2 separate regions of the Homo sapiens genome follow, and region 2 is linked to region 1. Evidence: fine-mapped expression QTL. A gene starts in region 1. The other region holds a variant in brackets. All regions are shown on one strand. Distances are between the middles of the regions. Region 1 holds the start of TSC1 (TSC complex subunit 1). Region 2 overlaps TSC1 (TSC complex subunit 1).

The links.
Region 2: its variant is fine-mapped to the expression of TSC1 in whole blood (TOPMed, PIP above 0.99).

Annotation. Positions count from the first base shown.
Region 1 is chr9:132,942,408-132,947,928 of GRCh38, reverse strand. It overlaps TSC1 (TSC complex subunit 1), which reads left to right and starts at 3,313. Exons shown (of 23, transcript NM_000368.5): 1 at 3,313-3,386. It overlaps MIR548AW (microRNA 548aw), which reads right to left and starts at 2,222; the gene lies at 2,158-2,222. It also overlaps a transcript of GFI1B not described here. RefSeq lists enhancers at 2,596-2,735, 3,096-3,395, 2,708-3,441 and silencers at 2,916-2,995, 3,526-3,585, 3,646-3,705.
Region 2 is chr9:132,904,840-132,909,839 of GRCh38, reverse strand. It overlaps TSC1 (TSC complex subunit 1), which reads left to right. Exons shown (of 23, transcript NM_000368.5): 13 at 2,470-2,539; 14 at 3,005-3,109; 15 at 3,701-4,259. Among named protein-coding and RNA genes, the nearest start is that of SPACA9, 28 kb to the right of the region's middle. The variant GTAT/T (reference allele first, on the strand shown) is at 2,860.

The DNA.
Region 1 (5,521 bases):
GAGTGTTCAAACTGTTCAAATACGGCAAACGCCGAGCTGCAACCAATCTCACTGTTTCTGTACCTCACTTCTGATTCCTGTATGTCACTTTAGTTTAGTTTTTTTTTTTTTTTTTTTTTGGAGACCAAGTCTCTCTTTGTTACCCAGGCTGGAATGCAGTGGCACAATCTCAGCTCACTACAACCTCTGCCTCCCAGGTTCAAGTGATTCTCCTGCCTCAGCCTCCTGAGTAGCTTGGATTATAGGTACCCGCCACCACGCCTGGCTAATTTTTGTATTTTTAGTAGAGACAGGGTTTCACCATGTTGGCCAGGCTGGTCTCGAACTCCTGACCTCAAGCCATCTACCTGCCTTGGCCTCCCAAATTGCTAGGATTACAGAAGTGAGCTACTGCGCCAGGCCACTTTACTTTGTCTATAAATTTGTTCTGACCCCGGGAGTCTCTCTGAATCTGTTGATTCTAGAGGCTGCCTGATTCATGAATTCTCTTTTTCTTTCTTTTTTTTTTTTTTTTTTGCTCGATTAAATTTAATCTAATTGAACTTGTCTTAAGCTTTCTTTTAACAAGCTCCATGATGGGCATCTCAGATTGGCCAGGCCTGGTCCACCTGCTGTGGCCTGGGGCTGGTACTGTGATTGTGAGGACCATCAGCACTGAAAGAATTGAGGATGGGCGGTTCACCTGTTCAGAAGGCGAGGGGGAGATGTCACACAGCCAAATGCAGCAGATGTCCTCCACCACGTGCATCCTGTCAGCACGCCCGCCTATGGAGGGCTCAGCCCTTTCATGCTCAGACAGGCCGGTCAGGAAGCCCCGTCACAGGGAGGCTCCAGGGTGGTGTATGGAAGGTAGTGGTCTGAATAGTGTCTGTTGAGCAAATGACAAAAATCAACCCCAGAGAAGCAGAAAACATCTAGGTGGCCCAGCCTGGTAAGTGGCAGGAGATGGTAGTAGAGCTGTCTCTGCCTGTCACCTTCAGCCTCTTCTTGCAAGCCCCTGGTGGTCCCATATTGAGGTAACAATGCCCATTCTTCTTCCAGACAGTGTAGAAACAGTGACAATGTGGTTATGGCCCCCTGGAAAGTGAGCAGTTGATGAGCTCTGCTTATGGCTGCTCTCCTCCATGGCAGAATGCATTCCTGCAGGATGAGGTCATGGAGCCAAGGAAGGTCAGGGTGTGGGGGGGCTTCCTGGGTCAGAGCTCCAGAGCAGTGCTGCTCCCCCTGCCCTCCTCCTTAGGTCTCCCATCACTGGTGGTCTCAGAAATCTCTGAAGATTTCAGAAATCTTGAATCCCTTCCCTGGTGTGAATGCAAAGGGAAGAGTCTGTTCCTGTAAAGTAGTTTGCAGATTGGTGGAACTGAGAGAACCCAGACCCTTCCCCGTTTCCCTCGACCTTTCCATCTCTGGACCCCATGCAGACTATGCTTGGGTGGTGACACAGAAGAATTTAGTGTTTGGTGGACCCGTTTCTGGAAGTGATGGATGCTGACAGCTGGCACTTAACAGTTATCAAAAATAACATTAACTGGAGTAGGCTCTGTGCCACTTAGAGCTTAATGACTCACTGACTTCACCCCAAATCCCCATGAACTAGCATTATTATTAGCCCTATGTTGCAGGTGAGGAGACTAAGGCTCATCCAGTTAGAACATGATGGCTGAAACCTACATTCAAACTCTGGTCTGTTTGAATCTAGAACTCTTAGCTTCCCCCCAGCGACTGTGTTAGAACAGAGGAATCATCAGTTCAATTTTCACCTCCCTCCTAAGCCTTCGTGGCTCTAGACGTATGGTTATAAAGGTTGTTCACTGCTCAAGGGCCCAGGAGGGTTTGGGGCTGGTGGATAGGGGCCAAAATACAGCCCAGGGGTGCCATTTTTCTAATTCTCACCAAGGCCCTATACTGACTAGCAGCGGCTCTACCCGATACCATCCAGGGCCTTTTCAGAATTCTGAAGGCACCCACGGTGCTGGCTACTCACACACCTGGCCCCCCTTAACCATGGCTGCCTTGCACTGTGACCCAATTGGTTCCCATGACAAAACCTGTTATTCCCATAACTCACCCAACACTTTTTTGCCCCTAGGCTCTTGCTCCTTTGGTTCCCTCTGCCTGGAATGGCCTTCTCTCCCGAGCCGCCTCGCCTGGTTCTATTAGGTTGATGCAAAAGTCATCGCGGTTTTAATGGTAAAAACCGTGATGACTTTTGCACCGACCTAGTATTTCACAAAACCTACATTTCCTTTAAAACCCAACCTGATGCCTACTCCTTCAAAATGCCTTTCATATCCCACAGTTCGACTTCATCTCACTCTGCCTCCTCTCACAGGGCTTTGTGTTCGTGCTGGATGGAGCCCATCATACTCAGCCTCGCAATAAAGGCCACCTATCTAGTGAGTGAGCATTTACTAGGCGCAGGACTCTGGGCTAAACGCTGTCCATACTTCATCTCCTTGATTCTTCACGTCACAGATGTCATTATGCCCATTTCACAGAGGAAGAAACTGAGGCTTGGAGGACTTAAAGCCTTGTTTCAGCAGGAAACGGAATAAGGCGTTCTGATTTTCAAGCTGTCTCCTATTAGGGCTGGTTTCCCCTAGATGTCATGAGTAGGTGTGAAGTGTGAGCTACTTGAAGGCAGAAGCCAGGGGGGTCCCCCGCAATCCCGGAGGCGGGCTTCTGAAAATGTTTAGCCCAGGAAGGAGGGCTGCCCTGGCCCGCAGCTTTCCGCCCCTTCCCAGGTGAGCTGCAACTCCAAAGCTCCCAAGCAGGCCCTTCACCCACGCGGGCCCCAGCAGCTCCTTGGGAAACAGGATCGCTGCTCTGAGGCCGCCCACAGAGAGACCCTCGGAGGGCGCCACGCAAGCGAAGGGCAGAAACGACTCGGGGGGCAGGGGCAGGGCGCTCCAACCACACCCAGGCGCCGCCAGCTTGTTTACGCCTCTCCGCCGCGTCCCCCCGCCCGCCAGTCACGTGACCGCCCGCCCCGCCCCCTCGGGCTCTCGCGTGGCTCCTCCCGCCGCGCCGGCCCTTCTTTTTGCCTCCTTCGCGGAGTCACAAGATCTCTTCGCAGCCTCCTTTCGGATCCTTCCGCCCGGCCCCGCCCCCCTCCATAAAAACCCTCCTTACTTTTTTTCTCGTCCAACCCACATCGTCAGTTATGAGTGGAAGAGCCTCTTCCTTCCGGCGGGGCTGCCGAGCGCGGCCGTCTATCCTTCCTTTCGAGAAGGAGGGGAGGTCCGGAGGGGGACTCTTTTTCGTGGCGGAGGCCGCCGTCGGCCTTGGCCCTTTCACGACGGGGGAGGTGCTGTACGTCCAAGATGGCGGCGCCCTGTAGGCTGGAGGGACTGTGAGGTAAACAGCTGAGGGGGAGGAGACGGTGGGTGAGTATGGGGGTGTCTCCCCCTCCTTTTTATGGGGGCTTCCTGGGGCAGCCCCGGCACCATGACTCCAGCCGGGGAGGCTCGGAGGGGCTGGAGCAAGAGACTCACTTGCTTGGTAGGGATCCCGGGGAAGGGGGGTTCGGAGAGCTCTCCCCTCCCTCTTATTACACGCTATCTCCGGCTGGCCCGGCCGGGACTGGCGGGTCCCTGGGGAGGAGAGGCGAGCCGGACGGAGCACTTCGCCCCTCCTTGGCCCCCGAGGGGACGGCTGCACCCTGGGCCTCGGTCCCTCGGGCAGGGGCGAGGTGGGCCCCTTCGTCAGTCCCTCACTTGGTGGGGTGACAGGTTCACGCTAGGTGCGGAGGGCAGGGTAGAGACGCTTGGCGGGAGGGGAAGGGTCGCGAGGGTGGGGCTGGTCCCAGAACTTAAAGAGAGGGGTCGGGGTATAGGGGCGTGGAGAATGAATGGAGGTCGCCTGTGGGGATCAAGGACTCGCCTGGATTCGGTGTCTCCGCTGAAATTTGCATGACTCGCTCTGGGTGTACTTGTGGGTGTTTAATTGGTGGTGAAAGACAGTTACCTTAAAGTGGGCAAAGGGGATTCCTAAGAGACAGCTATTTGCAGAGCCCCTCCTAGGCGTTCATTCATTCATTTGAGGAACTGGAGGATGAAGAGCCTGCAATCGGAGGGACCTTGTAGAATTAAAGCTCTTTCTTTGTGTTTCCTGTTAAAGAGTTTTGCTTTGTGTGTTTTGGATGTGTGGTGAGGACTTGGGAGGGGACGCGGTCCTCCTAAGAACAACAGCTAACGTTAATGGAGTGCTCTCTGTGTGCCAGGCACTGTGAAAGTGCTTGGCAGTCATTATCTCCTTTGGTCCTCACGACAAAGAGAAGAGGCAGCCACTGTTAACACCTCCAATCTTCTCAAATGAAGAAACTGAGGCCCGGAGAGAGCAGGGTACTTTGCCTAAGTTCACACCCCAATTGTATCTGAGCCAGGACTGGAACTGCTGGGATCTGACTGACTCCAAAGATATGACTCTTAAATTTATCTGTTATTTGATCAAAGCTGGCCTGTAAGTGATTAAAATTTATCATTTAGCCAAGGTTTATGCACGTGTGTCTGTTTAATGTTGAAGTGGGGGGATGCACTTGGCTTATCCGCCTTAGCTTTTGTTTGGGATGGCAGTGTTGTGCATGTGAACTTGTTAGTCTAAATTAGGCTAAAAAGTATTTGATAGTTTAATAAAACTGATGAGTTTACTGAAGAAAGAAGTCCTGCTAAAATCCTTGCTGGCTTTTTTTTTTTTTTAAATAGAAAGCATACAAATAACACTTCACGTTGCATAGAGTAAGCTATAAAAGTGCTAAAATAGAATAATACTCTTCTGAGATACTTTGATTTATAATTTTGGGATCAACTTGGAGTCATCTGAATTCAAACAGGCCGGCAAAGTGGAGCTGTAAATTTCAGGAAGCATTATAAAACCTAATCTTTGGGGAGCCTTTGATTTACCGAGCAACCACCTGTGATTCTTAAATTGAACATTCCTGAGTAAATCTGGAATATGCAAATGTGAAAACTGATTTAGGGTTGTGTAGGGAAATGCACCTTTAACAGTCATGCATCAGGCAAATGAGGCTCCTCAGAAACAGTGAAACATTCTTTGCTATTGCCCTAGGGAGCTGCAGAATCTTCCTCTAACCACCTGGTGTAAACTTAAGGGGTATTTATAGAAGATGTAAACGGAAAATATCCTCTTACTAAAGTTAATATCTTATCCAAAACACTCTTATATCACGTGCCTAGAAGGGCAGATGATGTAAACTTTCTCTGCTGCATGCATTTCCTGGTGTCATAAACACTTGGTACGTTCCTAAATTCCTGGTTAGAAAGCAGGTGGCTACCAGCCTTCTTGTTTCCATAAAATTAGAGTGCTTCAGGTCCTGTGACTCAGTTGTCCTCTTCCTCACTGGGTTAAGAGTAAAAACTGATACTGCTACTGTTGTGGTGTAATATGATGCCTTCTGTGCATGCCTGGTTTCATTCGTGAGATGAAACTTAACAGTCTTACTAGGGCAAATCTAATATATACCTCTATATGTAATGTTTGCAGAATAATGAACTTGGTGGAA
Region 2 (5,000 bases), 38 kb after region 1:
ATTAAAAACAATAAAAACTAAAAAATTTTAAAAGTTGAGTGTTCTGTATTAAGCAGTAACCATTATTAATTTTATTAAATCTTAGCCCTTGAGAACATGTATGTGTAATATTCTTCGTGGCAAAATAGAAAATATGCATAAGGCACATGTACTGCATACCAGGGTATGATGGTGACCTCTGGCCCTCATGCAGTTATTTGAATTGAGAGGTGAAGTAGCTGCCTTTTTTCATGGAATGCCAGTTTTATTTGAAAGAACTGCTGTCTTACAAACTGGTTATTCAGACTTGGGTGTTTGGCAGGCAGCTTCTCAAATGATGAGCTGAGTCTGTCACTTCAAGATAAACAACTGACAGTATTTGTTGCCAACAATAAAAGTCAACTCTCAGGTGGAAATCAAGATATTAAAAAACGTGTATATACTACCATGAACTTGATAGCTGCCCCAGGACTTTTATGATGAGACCGAAAAGTCTGTGGAAGCTTAGTTAGTAATTTGAGTTTTTGATATTGTATAATGAAGTGTTTCAACATTTGGAATATTTGAATAGCTTGAGGAGCCAATATTTTCAGAGTGTCCAATGTATGATACGTTGCAGAATCATGCATAGGTAAAAAGTACATTCAAAGTACAAAGCAGGCTGGGCGCAGTGGCTTACACCTGTAACCCAGCACTTTGGGAGGCTGAAGCAGGTGGATCACTTGAGGTCAGCAGTTGAAGACCAGCCTGGCCTACATGTTGAAACACCATCTCTACTAAATATAGACATTAGCCGGGTATGGTGGCAGGCACCTGTAATCCCAGCTACTTGGGAGGCTGAGGCGGGAGAATCACTTGAACCCAGGAGGCGGAGGTTGCAGTAAGTCGAGATCACACCACTGCATTCCAGCCCCAGCCTGGGCAACAGGGCAAGACTGTCACAAAAAAAAAAAAAAAAAGTGCAAGGTAGACTAGTGGGTTTTAACACAGGAAAAGCTCATTGATGTGGTTTCAAATTTCACTTTGTAACTTTAAGAAACTAACACTTATCAAATTTTGGTGTAATAACAAAGATGATTATTTGAAAAGTCTGTCAACATACGTTTACTTTTTGCGGCTGGGCGTGGTGGCTTGCTTCTGTATCCAGCACTCTGGGAGTCCAAGGGAGGTAGATTGCTTGAGCCCAGGCGTTCAAGACCAGCCTGGGCAACATGCAAAACCCCATCTCAACTAAAAAAAAAAAAAAAGCCAGGTGTGGTGATGTGCATCTGTAGTCCCAGCTAATCGGGGAGCTGATGGAGAACGGCTTGAGCCCAGGAGGCAGAGATTGCAGTGAGCCATGATCACGCCACTGCATTCCAGCCTAGGTGACAGAGCCAGACCCTGTCTCAAAAAGAAAAACAACAACACATATGTTTACTTTTGCAATTACATATCTGTGGGGCCCCAGATTTTCTTTATACACTTCAGTCAAAATAACATATTGCAACAGACTGAATGTAGAGGTAGATATGAGAATCCAGCTGTCTTTCATGAAGCCATATATTAAAGAGATGGCAAAAATGTTCCATTCTTCTCACTAAATTTATTTTTATTTCGGGAAATATAGTTTTTTAATAAGAATATGTAATTTACATTAACTTGTAATGGGCTTGCTATTTTTAAGGGAATTAATATTTTAAAAATTTCCTGGTTTTCTAATATAATAATTATGCCTCGTAAAAGCTCTTGGGATTCTCCAACTTTCTCATTATTATTATTATTTTGTGTGTGTGAGACAGGGTCTCACTCTGTCGCCCAGGCTGGAGTGCAGTGGCACAATTGCAGCTCTCTGCAGCCTTGACCTCCCTGGCTCAGGTGGTCCTCCCACCTCAGCCTCCTGGGTAGTTGGGACTACAAGCACCAGTCACCATGCCCGGCTACTTTTTAAATTTTTTGTAGAGATGGGGTTTTGCCATGTTCCCCAGGCTAGTCTCAAACTGCTGAGCTCAAGGGATCCACTGGCCTTGGCCTCCCAAAGTGCTGGGACTACAGGCGTGGGCCACCACGCCCAGTCTGCAGCCATTTTTTAAGACTATAAAGAAAGCTGCTGGGCGTGGTCCCAGCACTTTGGGAGGCCGAGGCAGGCAGATCATCTGAGGTTGGGAGTTCGTGACCAGCCTGACCAATGTGGAGAAACCCCGTCTGTACTAAAAATACAAAAATTAGCCAGGCGTGGTGGTGCATTTCTGTAATCCCAGCTACTCTGGAGGCTGAGGCAGGAGAATCGCTTGAACCCAGGAGGCGGAGGTTGCAGTGAGCCGAGATTGTGCCATTGCACTCCAGCCTGGGCAACAAGAGCGAAACTCCACCTCAAAAAAAAAGAAAAGAAAACATCCCAACAATTTGAGAATCACTGCACTCGGCTGACCTTTAAACTACTTTACAATATGCTCGAGAACATGTGCAACATTTTTCGTCTTGTGATATAAATGATACTTATCTTTTCAGGAAGAGAGAATGGATTCTGCAAGACCATGTCTACACAGACAACACCATCTTCTGAATGACAGAGGATCAGGTAAAATTTCTGCGTTACTACAGGCCTTGCTTGCCTCTTCTAATTGGGTTATATGTGTTTAAGAAAAGAAAGTTAAATGGAAACAAGGAAATTCTGGGATATCCAAAATACTGAGGCCTAAACATAATGAAACGAGTAGTGAATTCTAAACACCAACCTAATAATATCAAAAACAGTTTTTAAGCTATTGCAGTGAAGTACCTGTATTCTGACTTGACTATATCTCTTTTCAGAGACATTAAGAACTGAGAATTTTATTTGCTATGGGATTATTTTTGGTACTTTTAGTTATATTATTTTTAATATTTCAGTCTTTTGTA[GTAT/T]CCCCAGGACAGAGCCATGTCCAGCCTTCTCTGTTCAGCATGAAGAGTTATTACAGACATATTCTATACAGTGTAAGCAGTTTTACACTTACAGGGATTACACTGTATTTCTTTGACTTCAGTTGTCTTTGTTTCTCTTCAGAAGAGCCACCTGGCAGCAAAGGTTCTGTCACTCTAAGTGATCTTCCAGGGTTTTTAGGTGATCTGGCCTCTGAAGAAGATAGTATTGAAAAAGATAAAGAAGAAGGTAATGTATGTGGGATTGCTATGAGTTGATAAAACCTGACCCTCGCTCTGCTATAAATCTGGGATTTTGTGCCATTGCTCACAGGCTTGCTGGATTTTTCTTCTCTTGAGGTAACAAGATGGGTGGTTTAGTCTGGGACCTATGCCAGGTAAAGTGATGCCACTTTTTTTTTTTTTTTTTTTGAGACAGGGTCTTGCTCTGTCACCCTGGCTGGAGTGCAGTGGTACGATCATGGCTCACTGCAGCCTTGACCTCCCAGGCTCAAGCAATCCGCCCACCTCAGCCTCCTGAGTAGCTGGGACCACAGGCATACACCACGATGCTCAGCTGATTTTTATTGTATTTTTTGTAGAGATGGGATCTCCCTATGTTGTCCAGGCTGGTCTCTAACTCCTGGGCTCAAGTGATCCTCCCTCCTCAGCCTCCCAAAGTTCTGGCATTACAGGCGTGAGCCACTGTGTCCAGCCGGATGCCACTTTTTCTCCTCTCTCTGAGTGACACTGGCATGTGGCAGCATGCCACCCAAACTGCCTAGTCTTTCCCAGGTGGAATACCGACTGCCATTTCTTTTGTTTCCTCTCTTCCTCTCAGCTGCAATATCTAGAGAACTTTCTGAGATCACCACAGCAGAGGCAGAGCCTGTGGTTCCTCGAGGAGGCTTTGACTCTCCCTTTTACCGAGACAGTCTCCCAGGTTCTCAGCGGAAGACCCACTCGGCAGCCTCCAGTTCTCAGGGCGCCAGCGTGAACCCTGAGCCTTTACACTCCTCCCTGGACAAGCTTGGGCCTGACACACCAAAGCAAGCCTTTACTCCCATAGACCTGCCCTGCGGCAGTGCTGATGAAAGCCCTGCGGGAGACAGGGAATGCCAGACTTCTTTGGAGACCAGTATCTTCACTCCCAGTCCTTGTAAAATTCCACCTCCGACGAGAGTGGGCTTTGGAAGCGGGCAGCCTCCCCCGTATGATCATCTTTTTGAGGTGGCATTGCCAAAGACAGCCCATCATTTTGTCATCAGGAAGACTGAGGAGCTGTTAAAGAAAGCAAAAGGAAACACAGAGGAAGATGGTGTGCCCTCTACCTCCCCAATGGAAGTGCTGGACAGACTGATACAGCAGGGAGCAGACGCGCACAGCAAGGAGCTGAACAAGTAAGGGACTGGGGCACTCTCTTCTGTGTTAAATGGTCCATTTTATTGTGAAGTACAGAAAGTGTAAGAGAGGAACAAGAATCATTCTTCACACTCCCACCTTGAGGCAGCTGGTTCTCTGCTGTTTGTCAGATGTCCTTCTAGGCTGTTGCATCTTCATATATGTGACCATGTGTGACCTCTGTGCACCTAAATTGGGATGATTCCTTAGCAGTCCATTTCAAAATGAGTCTTTTTATATAGGCCATTTTATGCCTCTGTTCTATGAGGACACTCAAATGCTTTCATATGTGCCCTCTGCAAGCTGTAGGCTGAAAATGAGGTTATGGTATTTCAAAGAATATAAGAATATTTGTCACAGTGTTTCCCTCTCTAGCTACAGATTATTATTATTATTTTCTATTTTGGTATCATAGTTCATTAGGTGGAGATAAAATCATCAGCATTTTATGCAAGTTCAGATGGCCTGACATCCCCTCCAGACCCCCTGAGGCACCCAAGTTTTCATAGAAAGGACTCTAGCTGAGAAACGGTTTCCCATCCGTCTTTTATTAGCTACTTTACAGGTGCTTGGGGAATATTTTTATTTTTCTTCTTATATACTATGCTATGGTGGAATTTGACAGGGATTATAGTATTTAAGCTCCCTCTTTTTAAACGAGATTTGGTATGATAGGCTTAGGTAAATTACCTACTTTTTCCTTAAATCGGAGTGACATAGCTTTACAACAGAGTGTACTC